2 separate regions of the Homo sapiens genome follow, and region 1 is linked to region 2. A link means that fine-mapping ties the variant in region 2 to the expression of a gene that starts in the linked region. Tissue or cell type: fibroblasts. Region 2 holds a variant in brackets; the other region holds the start of a gene. All regions are shown on one strand. Distances are between the middles of the regions.

Region 1 (8,260 bases), 120 kb before region 2:
ACACTTAAAAATGGTTAAAATGGTAAATTTTATGTGTATTTTACCACCATTAAAAATACTTCGATTTAACCATATAAGTATAGATGGTTGTTGTTAAATAGCAAATCTCAAGTTCTTACATCATCCAAAATGATTAATTTAAAAATTATATATTTCACATCCTTTATTTGCTATTTGAAAGCCACTGTAGTAAAAAGCTCCACTAAAAAAATTCATCAAACATACTGGGATTAGACATTTGTGAGGCATTTATTATCTATCTTAAATAAAATATGTAAACCTGTAAATATCAAACTTGCAGACCCTTAAATTTTAAAAAAAGCTATAAAGAGTTAAGCTTAAAACTAAACATAAAAAACCTAAACCATACTCGTTTGATTATGATTTTGGTATAATCTTGTCTAGGGAATAGTGATGTAACAAATTACATAAGTCTCTAAATTTTTCCCAACTGGAATGAGTAGAAAACTTTTGTGTATTTAAGATATTTAAATAATATCCAGGCACGGTGGCTCATGTCTGTAATCCCGACGCTTTGAAAGGCAGGGGTGCACAGATCGTTTGAGCCCAGGTGTTCAAGACCAACCTGAGCAACATGGTGAAACTCCACATCTACAGAAAATACAAAAAATTAGCCAGGCATGGCGGCATGTGCCTGTGGTCCCAGCTACTCAAGAGAACCACTGCACTCCAACCTGGGCGACAGAGACTCTATATCAAAAAAAAAAAAACAAAAAAACAAAAAAACAAAAAAAACAACTCCACCCTGGGTGACAGAGAGAGAATCTATATCAAAAAAGAAAAAAAGGAAAAGAAAAAGAAAAAGATCTTTAATTTAATTTATTTATTTTTGAGATGGAGTCCCATCTGTTGCCCAGGCTGGAGTGCAGTGGTGCAATCTCGGCTCACTGCGACCTCTGCATCCTGGGCTCAAGTGATTCTCCTGCCTCAGCCTCCTGAGTAGCTGAGACTACAGGCACCTGTCATCACACCCCGCTAATTTTCGTGTTTTTAGTAGAGATGAGGTTTCACAATGTTGGCCAGGCTGGTCTCAAACTCCTGACCACACGCGATCCACCTGCCTCGGCCTCCCAAAGTGCTGGGATTACAAGCATGAGCCACCACGCCAGGACAAAAGATCTTTTAATAATAAAACGAGAATAGGAGAATAGGGTCTTTCTTATAAGGGAAATCTGGAAAACCTACAGAATAATACTTTTAAAAGTGAGTTCACCCACTGGATTTTATGTAGGCTTAGAAAATTAAAATTTTATTATATAATGCAATAATTTGGCAGTAACTTTGTACTCATGTCATGCCATTATTATCATTAAATACATATCATTAAATTCAAGATGATTTATTCTGTTAAACACAAGATTCTTATTATAAAGCACTCATTAATCACTTCTTCCACATATGATAGAAACTGCTACCTTCATCAATTTTATTCCTTTTATCCTGCAGTGAATAACTTTTGTATTGTATTTTGCTAAAAAGACTTAGGTAGAGTTAGGTCCGTAGTTCAAAGCCAATCTGTGCCAAAGGGTTATTGATAGTGGATTTTAAAATACTTTGCTACTCCACTGACTGGAGTGGACTTTGCTAATTTACTCAATTTTTGCATTTTAGTATTTTTTTATCTGCACATAGGAATCACATATAGAAGGAATCTTAAATATCACATTGTCTTATCCTTTTGCTCTGTAGATGGGGAAACAAGCTTGGGGATCATCATTCTGAGGAATGTTTCAAATTAAAATTTCTAGGAGAACACCATGTAAGATAAAATGTATAACAAATATATTCATAGATGGCCTAGATTAGATTAATTTTATTCTCTTTAAAAGAGAAATGAGCATTCTCACTATTCTGAACTCACATATAGTGAAATTTTTACTAATATACATTTTATTAGTGTCCTTTAATAGTCTATTTAATGTGCCTTTTATATGGCCAATTATTTCTTAAAGATTTGCAGTCCATTGGATATGCTGACATGTAAGACATTCACTGTCAATATTTTATTTCCTTAATCCCACAATCTCAATAAAAATTTCGGTCTAAATATGAGTGGAAATGGGGAGTTAATTAAAGCAAATAATTGTGAAAGATTCGTAATGTATTTTTCTCGTATACACTATGGATAGAAATGAAGTGCATTTGCCTTAGCTTTCTACATTCTTTCCATAAAGCAAGGGTTCTTCAATCTTCATGGAGTCCCCAAATAACATGTGAATGTGAAGTATTGTGCTAGGTACTGCACGGGATGCCAAAGATGAACAAGGCATGAGTTCTGGGGGAATATACTATCTCTCACAGGAGAAATAAGTAAGTAGCGTACTCAAGTATTAAAGTGAGAACTTAAGTGCTATATGGCAGTTACAATAAAGAGGAAATTTAAAGTAAGGATAGATCATACCAAGTAGGATAAATCAGGAAATGAAGGCTAAACTTTGGAAGTGAGAAATTATTCTGGAAATTCGTGGAACTGCTTAGCGGAATAGGGTTTTCTAAGGAAGGGTACTGACTAAGCAAATGAAACGAAAAAAGGGAATGACTATGTTTCCGCAACTTCAAGAGATCCAGCTTCCCTGCAGGGCAAAGGAGTAACAGGAGAGAAAAAAAGCAATGAATCCGTGCATCCGCTAAACTCTTTTACCATATATTTTACTCTGACAAAACAACTATCACGTATTGGCCTTTTGTTTGTTTGTTTTTTTGAGACACGGTCTCCCTCTTTCGCCCAGGTTGGAGGGCAGTGGCGCAATCACCGTTTTCTGCAGCCTCTACCTCCTCGGCTTAAGCTACCTTCCCGCCTCGACCTTCCAAAGTGCTGGGACTACAGGCGTGAGCCACCATGCTCAGGCTTATTGGCACTTTTCTGTGCACTTTTAAATGTAATCCTCTAAATCACTCTTCTCCACCTTTCCTGTGCATAGGAATCACCTGTGGTTCCCGTTAAATTGGAGATCTTGATTCATTAGGTCTGGGGCGGGGCCTGAGCTTCTGCATTTCCATTGAGCTCACAGCTGAAGCCTACCCTGGACCACACCTTCCAATGGAAAAGGCTCCAGTGTGATTTCTAGCCACTAGTATTATCTGCGAACTTGGGAGAAATAAAATGCAAGTTCTCGGCCCCCGCAAGGGCTCTACTGAATCCGAAACACTGTGGGGAGGCCCACCACTCTGCAGTGTTTTAACAAGCAAGTGGTTAAAGTTTGAGAGCCACCCGTAAGTCACGGGTTTCCTAACATGATTGGACACTGGAATCACCTGCGGATTTTTTTTTTTTTTTTTTTTTTGAGACGGAGTCTCGCTCTGTTGCCCAGGCTGGAGTGCAGTGGCGGGATCTCGGCTCACTGCAAGCTCCGCCTCCTGGGTTCACGCCATTCTCCTGCCTCAGCCTCCCAAGTAGCTGGGACTACAGGCGCCCGCCACTACGCCCGGCTAATTTTTTGTATTTTTAGTAGAGACGGGGTTTCACCGTTTTAGCCAGGATGGTCTCGATCTCCTGACCTCGTGATCCGCCCGCCTCGGCCTCCCAAAGTGCTGGGATTACAGGCGTGAGCCACCGCGCCCGGCCTGCGGATTTTAACTAATACTACTGATGCCGCATCTCACCCCCCCTCCCGAGATTCTCAGGTACGGGGCGTGGCCTTGGCGGCGGCCTTATAAAAGCTCTCCCAGGTGATTCCAACCTGTAGTAACACTTGAGAACTGCGTGAGGTGGGGACTTCAACTTTAACTGGACTTATTTTCCTCCTATGTAAAAGGTGGACAATATGCAAGTGGTCCTGACTTTGCTTCCAGATTTTGGCAACTCCAGAGCCCTAGTTCGGTCTGGAGAGCCAGCTTCCCGCCCCGTGTCCTAAGGCCTCTGTCCGAGAACCCAAAGTCCTGGGAATGGACCCGCGGGAGCGGACCCGCGGGAGCATCTGTGACGCCGCTCAGCAACCCGGCGCCGCCCCGGCGGCTCCGACGTGGCCCAGTGTCCGGCTGGCGTGGGCTCTCCAGGCCGCACCCACTAAACCGCGCCGGAGCGGGACACGCATGCGCCGGTCTGGACCCGGCACCCAGTAACGGACTCGAGCTCCTCCCACCGGAAGTGGGCAGCCGCGCAGCGGGAAGAGCCGGCCGAAGCGTGGCGGCCACAGACTGTGGGTACCGGGTCCGAGGGACTCGCGCTTTTCTCTCCGTGCCATGGCGCCAGCGAAAGCCACGAACGTGGTGCGGCTGCTACTAGGCTCCACAGCGCTGTGGCTTTCGCAGCTCGGCTCCGGGACGGTCGCCGCGTCCAAGTCGGTGACTGCCCACTTGGCCGCGAAGTGGCCCGAGACCCCGCTGCTGCTGGAGGCAAGGTGGGTGCGGGCCGGGCCCTCGTCCGGGCGGGTGTGGGCGCGCTGCCACCCTCAGCCGCGCTTTCTTCGTGCTCGCAGCGGGTGTCTGGCTCCCACCCGGGTTCTCCAGACGCCCCCGCTCTGGCCCTGAGCATCACCACCTCCTTCCTTCCCGACCCGGGGCGGCTTCTCGGTTCCCGTGCAGCACTCACTTGCAGTTCCTTTCCCCCTCAGTCTTACTTTACCTACGATTTTTAAAGCTTCCCTGCCCTGCTTTAATACGTTGGGATGTATTAGCATTTACGCGTGGCACTTAACGCAAGAGCTTCTACTGGGGTAGGCAGTTCTGTTCAGACAGTGCTTAAAGTACCTAGTTTCGTAATGATGACATCATACCATCAGCTCCTAGGCTTACTATGGGGAGGGCAGCTTCCTGCAAGGTAATATTTTTCCTGTATCTCTTCCAACGGAATTAGTTCATGACCTGTCATTTACTCTGCAGAACAAAACTTGTAGCTATTGCATTTTGCCCTTTAGTATTCTAGTTGAGTAAAATTAGAAAGTTCTTTCTCTTAGCAAAAATGAAGTTTTACACCAATGACTTAATGGCTGTTCACCACAGCAACAGTGTGTGTCCCTAAAAAGAGACTCCATGACTCCACATAAGTTCATGTATTTGATGCTAAAAGTTCTTTTTTTTTTTCATTTCTATAGTTTATTGGGGAACAGGTGGTGTTTGGTTACATGAGTAAGTTCTTTAGTGGTGATTTCTGAGATTTTGGTACACCCATCACCCCATCAGTATATACACTGCACCCAATTTGTAGTCTTTTATCCCTCACTCCCTTCTCAACCTTTCCCCCGAGTCCCCGAAGTCCATTGTGTCAATCTTATGCCTTTGCATCCTCATAGCTTAGTTCCCACATATCAGTGAGAACATACTATATTTGGTTTTCCATTTCTGACTTACTTCACTTAGAATAATAGTCTCTAATCTCATCCAGGTTGCTGTGAATGCCATTAATTGATTCCTTTTTATGGCTGAGTAGTGTTCCATCATATATATGCCACAGTTTATCCACTCGTTGATTGATGGGTATTTGGATTGGTTCCACATTTTTGCACTTGTGAATTGTGCTGCTATAAACATACTTGTGCAACTATCTTTTTCATGACTTCTTTTCCTCTGGGTAGATACCTAGTAGTGGGATTGCTGGATCAAATGGTAGATCTACTCTTAGTACTTTGAGGACTCCCCACACTGTTTTCCATAGTGGTTATACTAGTTTACATTCCCACCAGCAGTGTAGAAGTGTTCCCTGTTCGCTGCATCCACGCCAACATCTATTATTTATTTTTATTTTTTTATTATGGCCATTCTTGCAGGAGTAAGGTGGTATCGCATTGTGGTTTTGATTTGTGTTTCCCTGATCATTAGTATGTTGAGCATTTTTTCATGTTAGCCATTTATATATCTTTTGAGAATTGTCTATTCATGTCCTTAGCCCACTTTTTGATGGGACTGTTTTTTTTTTCCTGCTGATTTGAGTTCCTTGTAGATTCTGGATATTAATCCTTTTTCAGATGTATAGATTGTGAAGATTTTCTCCCGTTTTGTGGGTTGTCTGTTTACTCTGCTGACTATTCCTTTTGCCGTGCAAAAGCTGTTTAGTTTAATTAAGTCCCAGCTATTTTTTTTATTATTATACTTTAAGTTCTAGGGTACATGTGCACAACGTGCAGGTACATAGATATACATGTGCCATGTTGGTGTGCTGCACCCATTAACTCATCATTTACATTAGGTGTATCTCCTAATGCTATCCCCCGCTCCCCCAACCCCACAACAGGCCCTGGTGTGTGATGTTCCCCATTGTGTGTCCAAGTATTCTCATTGTTCAGTTCCCACCTATGAGTGAGAACATGAGGTGTTTGGTTTTCTATCCTTGTGATAGTTTGCTGAGAATGATGGTTTCCAGCTGCATGCATGTCCCTACAAAGGACATGAACTCATCCTTTTTTATGGCTGCATAGTATTCCGTGGTGTATATGTGCCACATTTTCTTAATCCAGTCTATCATTGACGGACATTTGGGTTGGTTCCAAGTCTTTGCTATTGTGAATAGTGCCGCAATAAACATGTGTGTGCATGTGTCTTTATAGCAGCATGATTTATAATCCTTTGGGTATATACCCAGTAATGGGATGGCTGGGTCAAATGGTATTTCTAGTCCTACATCCTTGAGGAATCGCCACAATGTCTTCCACAATGGTTGAACTAGTTTACAGTCCCACCAACAGTGTAAAAGTGTCCCTATTTCTCCACATCCTCTCCAGCACCTGTTGTTTCCTGACTTTTTAATGATCGCCCTTCTAACTGGTGTGAGATGGTATCTCATTGTGGTTTTGATTTGCATTTCTCTGATGGCCAGTGATGATGAGAATTTTTTCATGTGTCTGTTGGTTGCATAAATGTCTTCTTTTGAGAAGTGTCTGTTCATATCCTTCACCCACTTTTTGATGGGGTCGTTTAATTTTTTTCTTGTAAATTTGTTTAAGTTCTTTGTAGATTCTGGATATTAGCCCTTGGTCAGATGGGTAGATTGCAAAAATTTTCTCCCATTCTGTAGGTTGCCTGTTCACTCTGATGGTAGTTTCTTTTGCTGTGCAGATGCTCTTTACTTTAATTAGATCCCATTTGTCAGTTTTGGCTTTTGTTGCCATTGCTTTTGGTGTTTTAGACATGAAGTCCTTGCCCATGCCTATGTCCTGAATGGTATTGCCTAGGTTTTCTTCTAGAGTTTTTATGGTTTTAGATCTAACATTTAAGTCTTTAGTCCATCTTGAATTAATTTTTGTATAAGGTGTAAGGAAGGGATCCAGTTTCAGCTTTCTACATATGGCTAGCCAGTTTTTCCAGCACCATTTATTAAATAGGGAATCCTTTCCCCATTTCTTGTTTTTGTCAGATTTGTCAAAGATCAGATGGTTGTAGATGTGTGGTATTATTTCTGAGGGCTCTGCTCTGTTCCATTGGTCTATATCTCTATTTTGGCACCAGTACCATGGTGTTTTGGTTACTGTAGCCTTATAGTATAGTTTGAAGTCAGGTAGCGTGATGCCTCCAGCTTTGTTCTTTTTGCTTAGGATTGTCTTGGCAATGCGAGCTCTCTTTTGTATCCATATGAACTTTAAAGTAGTTTTTTCCAATTTTGTGAAGAAAGTCATTGGTAGCTTGATGGGGATGGCATTGAATCTATAAATTACCTTGGGCAGTATGGCCGTTTTCACGATACTGATTCTTCCTATCCATGAGCATGGAATATTCTTCCATTTGTTTGTGTCCTCTTTTATTTTTTTGAGCAGTGGTTTGTAGTTCTCTTTGAAGAGGTCCTTCACATCCCTTGTAAGTTGGATTCCTAGGTATTTTATTCTCTTTGAAGCAATTGTGAATGGGAGTTCACTCATGATTTGGCCCTCTGTTTGTCTGTTATTGGCATAGAGCAATGCTTGTGATTTTTGTACATTGATTTTGTATCCTGAGACTTTGCTGAAGTTGCTTATCAGCTTAAGGAGATTTTGGGCTGAGATGATGGGGTTTTCTAAATATACAATCATATCATCTGCCAACAGGGACAATTTGACTTCCTCTTTTCCTAATTGAATACCCTTTATTTCTTTCTCCTGCCTGATTGCCCTGGCCAGAACTTCCAACACTGTGTTGAATAGGAGTGGTGAGAGAGGGCATCCTTGTCTTGTGCCAGTTTTCAAAGGGAATGCTTCCAGATTTTGCCCATTCAGTATGATATTGGCTGCAGATTTGTCATAAATAGCTCTTATTATTTTGAGATATGTCCCATCAATACCTAATTTGAGAGTTTTTAGCATGAAGGGCTGTTGAATTTTGTCAAAGGCCTTTT
Region 2 (8,313 bases):
CATAGATGGAAAAATCCTCAACAAAATACTAGCAAACTGAATCCAGCAGCATATCAAAAAATTAATTCACCGTAATCAAATAGGCTTCACTCCTGAGAAAGGTTGGTTCAACATTAACAAATCAGTAAATGTCATTCACCACATACACAGAATTTAAAACAAAAAATGTGATCATTTTGATAGATGCTGAAAAATTATTCAATAAAATCAAACATCCCTTCATGATAAAAACCCTCAACAAACTGCATTGAAGGAACATACCTCAAAATAATAAACGCCATCTATGACAAACCCACAACCAACATCATACTGAACAGTGAAAAGCTGGAAACATTCCCCTTGAGGACTGGAACAGGAAAAGGATGCCCAGTCTCACTATTCCTATTCATCATAGTACTGGAAGTCTTAGAGCAATCAGGCAAGAGCAATAAATAAAAGGCATCCAAATAGTAAAAGAAGTCCAGTATCTCTCTTCACTGATGATATGATTCTACACCTAGAAAACCCTAAAGACTCCACCGGACAACTCCTAGAACTGATAAATTACTTAAGTAAAGTTTCAGGATTCAAAATTAATGCACAGCAATCAGTAGCATTTCTATAGACCAATAACATTCAAGCTGAGAGCCAAATCAAGAATGCAGTCCCATTTACAATAGCCATACACACACACACACACACACACACACACACACACACACACAAATAAAATACCTAGGAATACAGCTAACTAAGGAGATGAAAGATCTCTACAAGGATAATTACTAAACACTGCTGAAAGTGATCATATATTATGCAAACAAATGGGTAAACATTCCATGCTCACGGATTGGAAGACTAAATATTGTTAACATGGCCATACTGCCCAACACAATCTACAGATTTAATGCTATTCATATCAAACTGCCAATGTCATTATTCACAGAATTGGAAAATACTATTCTAAAATTAATATGGAACCAGAAAAGAGCCCAAATAGCCAAGGCAATTCCAAGAAAAAGAACAAATCTGAAGGCATCATATTGAGAGGTGACAATGTGCTGGTGGCCCTTGCTCACTCTCAGCACCTCCTTGCCCTCGGCGTCCGCTCTGGCCATGCTCGAGGAGCCCTTCAGCCTGCCACTGCACTGTGGGGGCCCCTCTCTGGGCTGTCCGAGGCCGGAGCCGGCTCCCTCTGCTTGCGGGGAGGTGTGGAGGGAGAGGCGCGGGCGGGAACCAGGGCTCCGCGCCACGTTCATGGGCCAGCGCGAGTTCCGGGTGGGCGTGGGCTCAGCAGGCCCTGCACTCAGGCCGGCGGGCGCTGCCGGCCCGGGCAGTGAGGGGCGTAGCACCCGGGCCAGCAGCTACAGAGGGTGCGCTGGGCCAGCACTGTGCTCGAATTCTCGCTGCCTCATCTGCCTCCCCCTGGGTCAGGGCTTGGGACCCGCAGCCCGCCATGCCTGAGCCTCCCCCCCACCCCCACCCCACCCCACCCTGCCCCGGCACCGTGGGGTCTTGCGCAGCCCGAGCCTCCCCGACGAGTGCTGCCCCCTGCTCCGCGGCGCCCAGTCCCATTGACCGCTCAAGGGCTGAGGAGTGCCGGTGCAAGGTGCGGGAGTGGCGGGCAGCTCCCCCTGCGGCCCAGGTGTGGGATCCACTAGGTGAAGCCCCTGGGCTCCAGAGTCTAGTGGGGACTTGGAGAACCTTTATGTGTAGCTGAGGGATTGTGAATACACCAATCAGCACTCTGTGTCTAGCTCAAGATTTGTAAACACACCAATCAGTACCCTGTGTCTAGCTGGAGGTTTGTAAATGCACCAATCAGTGCTGTGTCTAGCTCATCTAGTGGGGACTTGGAGAACTTTTGTGGCTAGCTCAGGGATTGTAAACACACCAATCAGCACCCTGTCAAAACGGACCAATCAGCTCTCTGTAAAACAGACCAATCAGCTCTCTGTAGAATGGACCAATCAGCAAGATGTGGGTGGGGCCAGATAAGGGAATAAAAGCAGGCTGCCCAAGCCAGCCGTGGCAACCCGCTTGGGTCCCTTTCCATGCTGTGGGAGGTTTGTTCTTTTGCTCTTTGCAGTAAATCTTTCTGCTGCTCAGTCTTTGGGTCCGTGCTGCCTTTGAGAGCTGTAACACTCACCATAAAAGTCTGCACCTTCACTCCTGAAGCCAGCGAGACCACCAACCCACCAGAAGGAGAAAACCCCGAACACATCTGAACATCAGAAGGAACAAACTCTGGACACTCCATCTTTAAGAACTGTAACACTCACCGCGAGGGTCCACAGCTTTATTCTTGAAGTCAGTGTGATCAAGAACCCACCAATTCCGGACACAGTATTACCCAACTTCACAGTACACTATGAGGCTACAGTAACCAGAGCAGCATGGTACTGGTACAAAAATAGACACATAGACTAATGGAACAGAGTAGAGAACCCAGAAATAAAGCCACACACCTACAAACATTTTAGCTTTGAAAAGTTGATGAAAATTAGTGGGAAAAGGGTCCTCGATTCAATAAATGGTCCTAGGATAGTTGGCTAGCCATATGCAAACAAAACTGGACCCCTACTTTTCACCACGTTCAAAACTTAACAAGATGGATTAAACAGTTAAGTATAAGACTTAAAACTATAAGAATTCTAGAAGAAAACCTAGGAAACACCGTTCTGGACATCAGTCTTGGGAAAGAATTTATGGCTAAGATCTCAAAAGCAATTGCATCAAAAACAAAAATTTGACGAGTGGGACCTAATTAATTAAAGAGTACAACAAAAGAAACTCGCAACAGAGTAAACAGACAGCCTACAGAATATACAGAAAATATTCACAAACTGTATATCCGACAAAATTCTAATATCCATAAGTAGCAAATAAATCAAGCAAAGAATAAATAACCCCATTAAAAAGTAGGCAAATGACATTAACAGGTACTTCTCAAAAGAAGACACGCAGGCGGCCAACAAGCATATAAAGAAATGTTCAACACTACTAATCCTTAGAGAAGTGCAAATCAAAACCAAAAGGAGACACCATCTCGTACCATTTAGAATGGCTGTTATTAAGTGAACAAACAACAGATGCTGGTGAGGCTGAGGAGGAAGGGGAACGCATATACACTGTTAGTGGGGATGTAAATTAGTTCAGCCCCTTTGGAAAGCAGTTTGTAGATGTTTCAAAGAACTTAAAACAGAACTACCATTCAACCCAGCAATCCCATTACTGGGTACATCTCCAGAGGAAAATAAATCGTTCTACCAAAAAGACACATGTATGTTCACTGCAGCACTATTCATAATAGCAAAGATGTAGAATCAGCCTAGGTGTCCATCAGTGGTGGATTGGTTAAAGAAAATGTGGTGCATATATACACCATGGAATACTACGCACCCATTAAAAATGAAATCGTCCCCTTTGGAGCAACATGGACTCAGCTGGAGGCCAAGCAAACTAACACAGAAACAGGAAACCAAACACTGCATGTTCTCTCTTATGAGTGGGAGCTAAACATTTGGTACTCATAGACATAAAGATGGCAGCAAGAGACACTGGGGATTTCTAGAGGGGAGAGGGAAGGAAAAAGTCAGGGAAGGGTTGGAAAACTATCTGGTACTATGCTAACTACCTGGGTAATGGGATCAGTCATAACCCCAACTTCAGCATTACATGATACACCTGTGTTGTAACCAATCTGCATGTGTACCCTCGAATCTAAAATAAAAGCTGAAATTCTTTAAAAATATATTTAATTAAATTTATCTTAGGCATAATTGCATCTAAAATTGCTTAATTGGAAAAAGTTGTAATTTTTACAAGGAAATGTATTCTCCCTCCCCCTCTCCCTCATCTCCCTCTGATGCCAAGCCGAGGCTGGACTGTACTGCCTCCATCTTGGCTCACTGCAACCTCCCTGCCTGATTCTCCTGCCTCAGCCTGCCTAGTGCCTGGGATTGCAGGCGCGCGCCGCCACGCCTGACTGGTTTTCGTATTTTTTGGTGGAGACGGGGTTTCGCTGTGTTGGCCGGGCTGGTCTCCAGCTCCTGACCTCGAGTGATCTGCCAGCCCCGGCCTCCCGAGGTGCCGGGATTGCAGATGGAGTCTCGCTCACTTAGTGCTCAATGTTGCCCAGGCTGGAGTGCAGTGGCATGATCTCGGCTCACTACAACCTCCACCTCCCAGCCGCCTGCCTTGCCCTCCCAAAGTGCCGAGATTGCAGCCTCTGCCCGGCCGCCACCCCGTCTAGGAAGTGAGGAGCATCTCTGCCTGGCCGCACATCATCTGGGATGTGAGGAGCCCCTCTGCCCAGCCGCCCAGTCTGGGAAGTGAGGAACACCTCTTCCCGGCCGTCATCCCGTCTAGGAAGTGAGGAGCGTCTCTGCCCGGCTACCCACCTTCTGGGATGTGGGGAGCGCCTTTGCCCCGC[C/T]GCCCCGTCTGGGCTGTGAAGAGCACCTCTGCCCCGCCGCGACCCCGTCTGGGAACTGAGGAGTGTCTCTGCCCCGCCACCACCCCGTCTGAGAGGTGAGGAGCGTCTCTGACCGGCTGCCCCGTCTGAGAAGTGAGGAGCCCCTCCGCCCAGCAGCCGCCCCATCTGGGAAGTGAGGAGCCCCTCCGCCCGGCAGCCGCCCCGTCCGGGAAGTGAGGAGCGTCTCCGCCCGGCAGCCGTCCTGTCCGGGAGGTGGGGGGCAGCCCTCGCCAGGCCAGCCGTCCCGTCGGGGAGGTGGGGGGCAGCCCCTGCCCGGCCAGCCGCCCCGTCCAGGAGGTAGGGGGCAGCCCCTGCCCGGCCAGCTGCCCCGTCCGGGAGGTGGGGGGCGCCTCTGCCCGGCCGCCACCCCGTCTGGGAGGTGTACCCAACAGCTCATTGAGAACGGGCCATGATGACGATGGCGGTTTTGTCGAATAGAAAAGGGGGAAATGTGGGGAAAAGAAAGAGAGATCAGATTGTTACTGTGTCTGTGTAGAAAGAAGTGGGCATAGGAGACTCCATTTTGTTCTGTACTAAGAAAAATTCTTCTGCCTTGGGATGCTGTTAATCTATAACCTTACCCCCAACCCCGTGCTCTCTGAAACATGTGCTGTGTCCACTAAGGGTTAAATGGATTAAGGGCGGTGCAAGATGTGCTTTGTTAAACAGACCCTGCAAGGCAGCATGTTCGTTAAGAGTCATCACCACTCCCGAATCTCAAGTACCCAGGGACACAAACACTGCGGAAGGCGGCAGGGCCCTCTGCCTAGGAAAACCAGAGACCTTTGTTCACAAGTTTATCTGCTGACCTTCCCTCCACTATTGTCCTGTGACCCCGCCAAATCCCCCTCTCCGAGAAACACCCAAGAATGATCAATAAATACTAAAAAAATTTAAAAAAACAACAAAAAAGCAAACAAACAAACAAACAAAAAAATTCAGTGAGTTAATTAATGAGAATTGTCCTGCTCACAATAGGTGCTCAAGAAATGGTTACTACCATGATTCTGGTTGTGAAGTGAAATTGCCAACACCTGAGACAGAGCTCATTAAATGTTTACCAAACTGAAGAATAAAAAAAAAAAAAAAAAAGAAAGAAAATGTATTGTAATAATTCTAAATTGCTTATTTATTTTTGATTAAGTAATCTTTGTGTTATCTGCATACTTTTTGAAACATGGATATAAATTGCCTGTATTATCTAAATAACATTTTTGTTTTTTTAGGGCACATTAAATGATCGCACGAATGCAATTGATTTTCTAATGGATAGGAATAATGTTGTACCCCGTATAAATACTTTGATTTTGCGTACTAACCAGCAGTACCTCAATTTAATATCTACATCAGGTAAAATAATCCTATACTGTTCTACAAATGTTTATTGAGTTGTGAATTCTTTATTTATATTTAACGTTTAATTTGAAATTTTTCAGTAACTGCTGATGTTGAAGATTTCTCTACTTTCTTTTTCTTGGATTCACAAGATAAGAGTGCTGTAATTGCAAAGAACATGTATTATTTAACCCAAGACGGTAATAAGCATATTTTATTTACCTGAATTCTTAAAGTGATAGAAACTTGTAATGTTCATAAGGCAGTTGTATAATAAATTTTAATATGTTGCTATTTTTGAGTAGAGGCCTAGATTTCAATTTTAGAGTTTGTAAATTTTTTAGTATTTAACGTGTGCTGAGAAAACAATGCCTTCTATTCTAACTTTGTTTATCTTATTTTTGCCTTTTTTAAACAAACTATTTTCACCTTTTTAAGAAAAGAATAAAATCTTTTCAGTACTATGTAAACTATCTTATAATGTATACAGAAAAGTACAATTACCAGATCAGAGAAGATAATAATTCTTCTGCATTCTGATTAAATAACATGCAGATATTTTGCTTAAGGTAGGGGTTACAACCAGAAGAGAGGAGACCAAGATAGTAACACACTTGGGAAAAAGGATTTAGCCAAACTGAGAAGTCTGCAGTGGGACCGTAGATTTGTTAGGGTACAATTAACTATTCAGATAGATGAATATAATTCGAATTTGGTGGTTTTTGTTTTGCTTTGCTTTGTTTTGTTTGGCCTGCTTTGCTCTAGAAATAAAAACAAGAGCCAATGAGTAAAAGATTAAAGAAGGCTGATTTTGGTCTCAGTAGGGAAGTGGTAATTTTCTAACAGTGAGAGTTCATTAAACAGATGGAATGAACTATGTTGTAAGGGGCAAACTTTTATATAGGAGAGAGATTTAAAGCAAAGGCCACACAACCAGTTCTTGTAAATGCTGTAGATTAAATCCGAGTTTCTACCAGATGGCTCCTGGATTACTGTCTAACAGATTCCATGATTTTATGTTCATAAAGGAGTCTGGCTACATATTGCTGTTTTCTATATCTACTAATAAGCTTGATTGTTACGGTTTTACATATATTTGGGACATAAATTTTTTTTTTTTAAACAAATGTAGCTAGAAGGCAGATTTGCTTACCAACACTGGGAGTTTTATATAAGCTTATATAATGAGTTACTCTTCTAACCGGAAGCTTTATATAAGCTTGTATAATGAATTACCCTTGTAGCATTTTTATATGTAATTTTATATGTATTTATTTTTGTATGTATATATACGTACTTGCATGTATACATTCACACATAACATTTTAAAAATCTTTGCTTTTCAGAAATATTATTTTAATTTTTTTTAATGTGTTAACTGCACATGTTCCCCTGCTTTTGTTTTATTTTTTAAAAAAAAAGTTAATTTGAGTAAACTGTTTGAAACTTTCAGATGAGAGTATAATTTCTGCAGTCACTCTCTGGATTATTGCAGATTTTGATAAGCCTTCTGGGAGAAAACTTCTTTTTAATGCATTAAAGCACATGGTGAGTACCTAGATATTCTTACTAACAATTTTAATTTATTTCAATTTAAGGAAAGCAATATGAAGAACATACATTAAATATTTTCCCCTCCATGTTAATGTTTCAGTTAAGTAGACGAAGGAATTCAGATTTAGTCTTCATGTAAAACAGGTAACTTTGCTCAGGAAAAGAAAAACCTACCTGTTTTCTATGACTCGTGACATATATTCTCTGGTAGTCCTTGTGATCAGACATACACATACCACATATTGATTACAAATAGGGTATTAAACAAAGTAAGTAACTCTAGACCCTACCACCACTTCAGTGACCCGAAATCCACTATTTACCAACAATAGCTAGTAATAGCAATTTTTGGTCACATAATTAAGCAGCATTTTCTTTCCCTGATTATTTAAGAAAAACTAAGTAAATTTATCTCACTGAAGAATATTTTAAGCCTTAAGTCAACATTAAATTTCTTGTTATTGATTATAAACCAGTATACTTCAAGAGGATATATTTCTGTATATAAAAGTAGTCTTTCATAACTGTCTGTATTTCTAAGTTAATATATAAGTTTATCTAGATAAAAAATACTTAAGAAACATAAACCAAAATATTTTATGAAATTGTTTTTATATTAGCTAAGTATAAATTTATTGCTGTATAACAAATTACCACTTGGTGGTAAACAGTGAACATTTATCTTAACAGTTTCTGAGGTTCAAGAATTTAGGAGCAATTTACCTGAGTGATTCTATCTTAGATTCTCTTATAAGGCTATATTTAAGATTTTGGTTATAGTTGCAGTGATCCGAAGGCTTCACTGGAGCAGGAGGACAAGCTTCTAAGATGACTCACTTACATGCCACTGCAGGAGTCCTCAGTGTTTCACTGGCTTTTAGCAGAGTGCTTCATTCCATTGCCACATAGACCTGTTTTTGGTGTTACTTAAGTGCCCTCACAACGTGGCAGCTTCCTTTTTCCAGAACAAG

Alleles and levels. Alleles are on the strand shown, and positions count from the first base shown. SD is a standard deviation of normalised expression in the study named.
As copies of T replace C in region 2, the expression in fibroblasts of the gene that starts at base 4,115 in region 1 goes up (small effect, 0.33 SD a copy in GTEx).

The links. PIP is the estimated chance that this variant, and not a neighbour inherited with it, causes the effect.
Region 1: UGGT2 starts here. The variant in region 2 is fine-mapped to the expression of UGGT2 in fibroblasts (GTEx, PIP 0.93).

What each region holds. Positions count from the first base shown.
Region 1 is chr13:96,049,256-96,057,515 of GRCh38, reverse strand. It overlaps UGGT2 (UDP-glucose glycoprotein glucosyltransferase 2), which reads left to right and starts at 4,115. Exons shown (of 39, transcript NM_020121.4): 1 at 4,115-4,361. The coding sequence starts at 4,204. RefSeq lists an enhancer at 3,854-4,353.
Region 2 is chr13:95,924,703-95,933,015 of GRCh38, reverse strand. UGGT2 (UDP-glucose glycoprotein glucosyltransferase 2) reads left to right here. Exons shown (of 39, transcript NM_020121.4): 18 at 5,680-5,803; 19 at 5,890-5,988; 20 at 7,242-7,336. Among named protein-coding and RNA genes, the nearest start is that of UGGT2, 120 kb to the left of the region's middle. The variant C/T (reference allele first, on the strand shown) is at 4,415.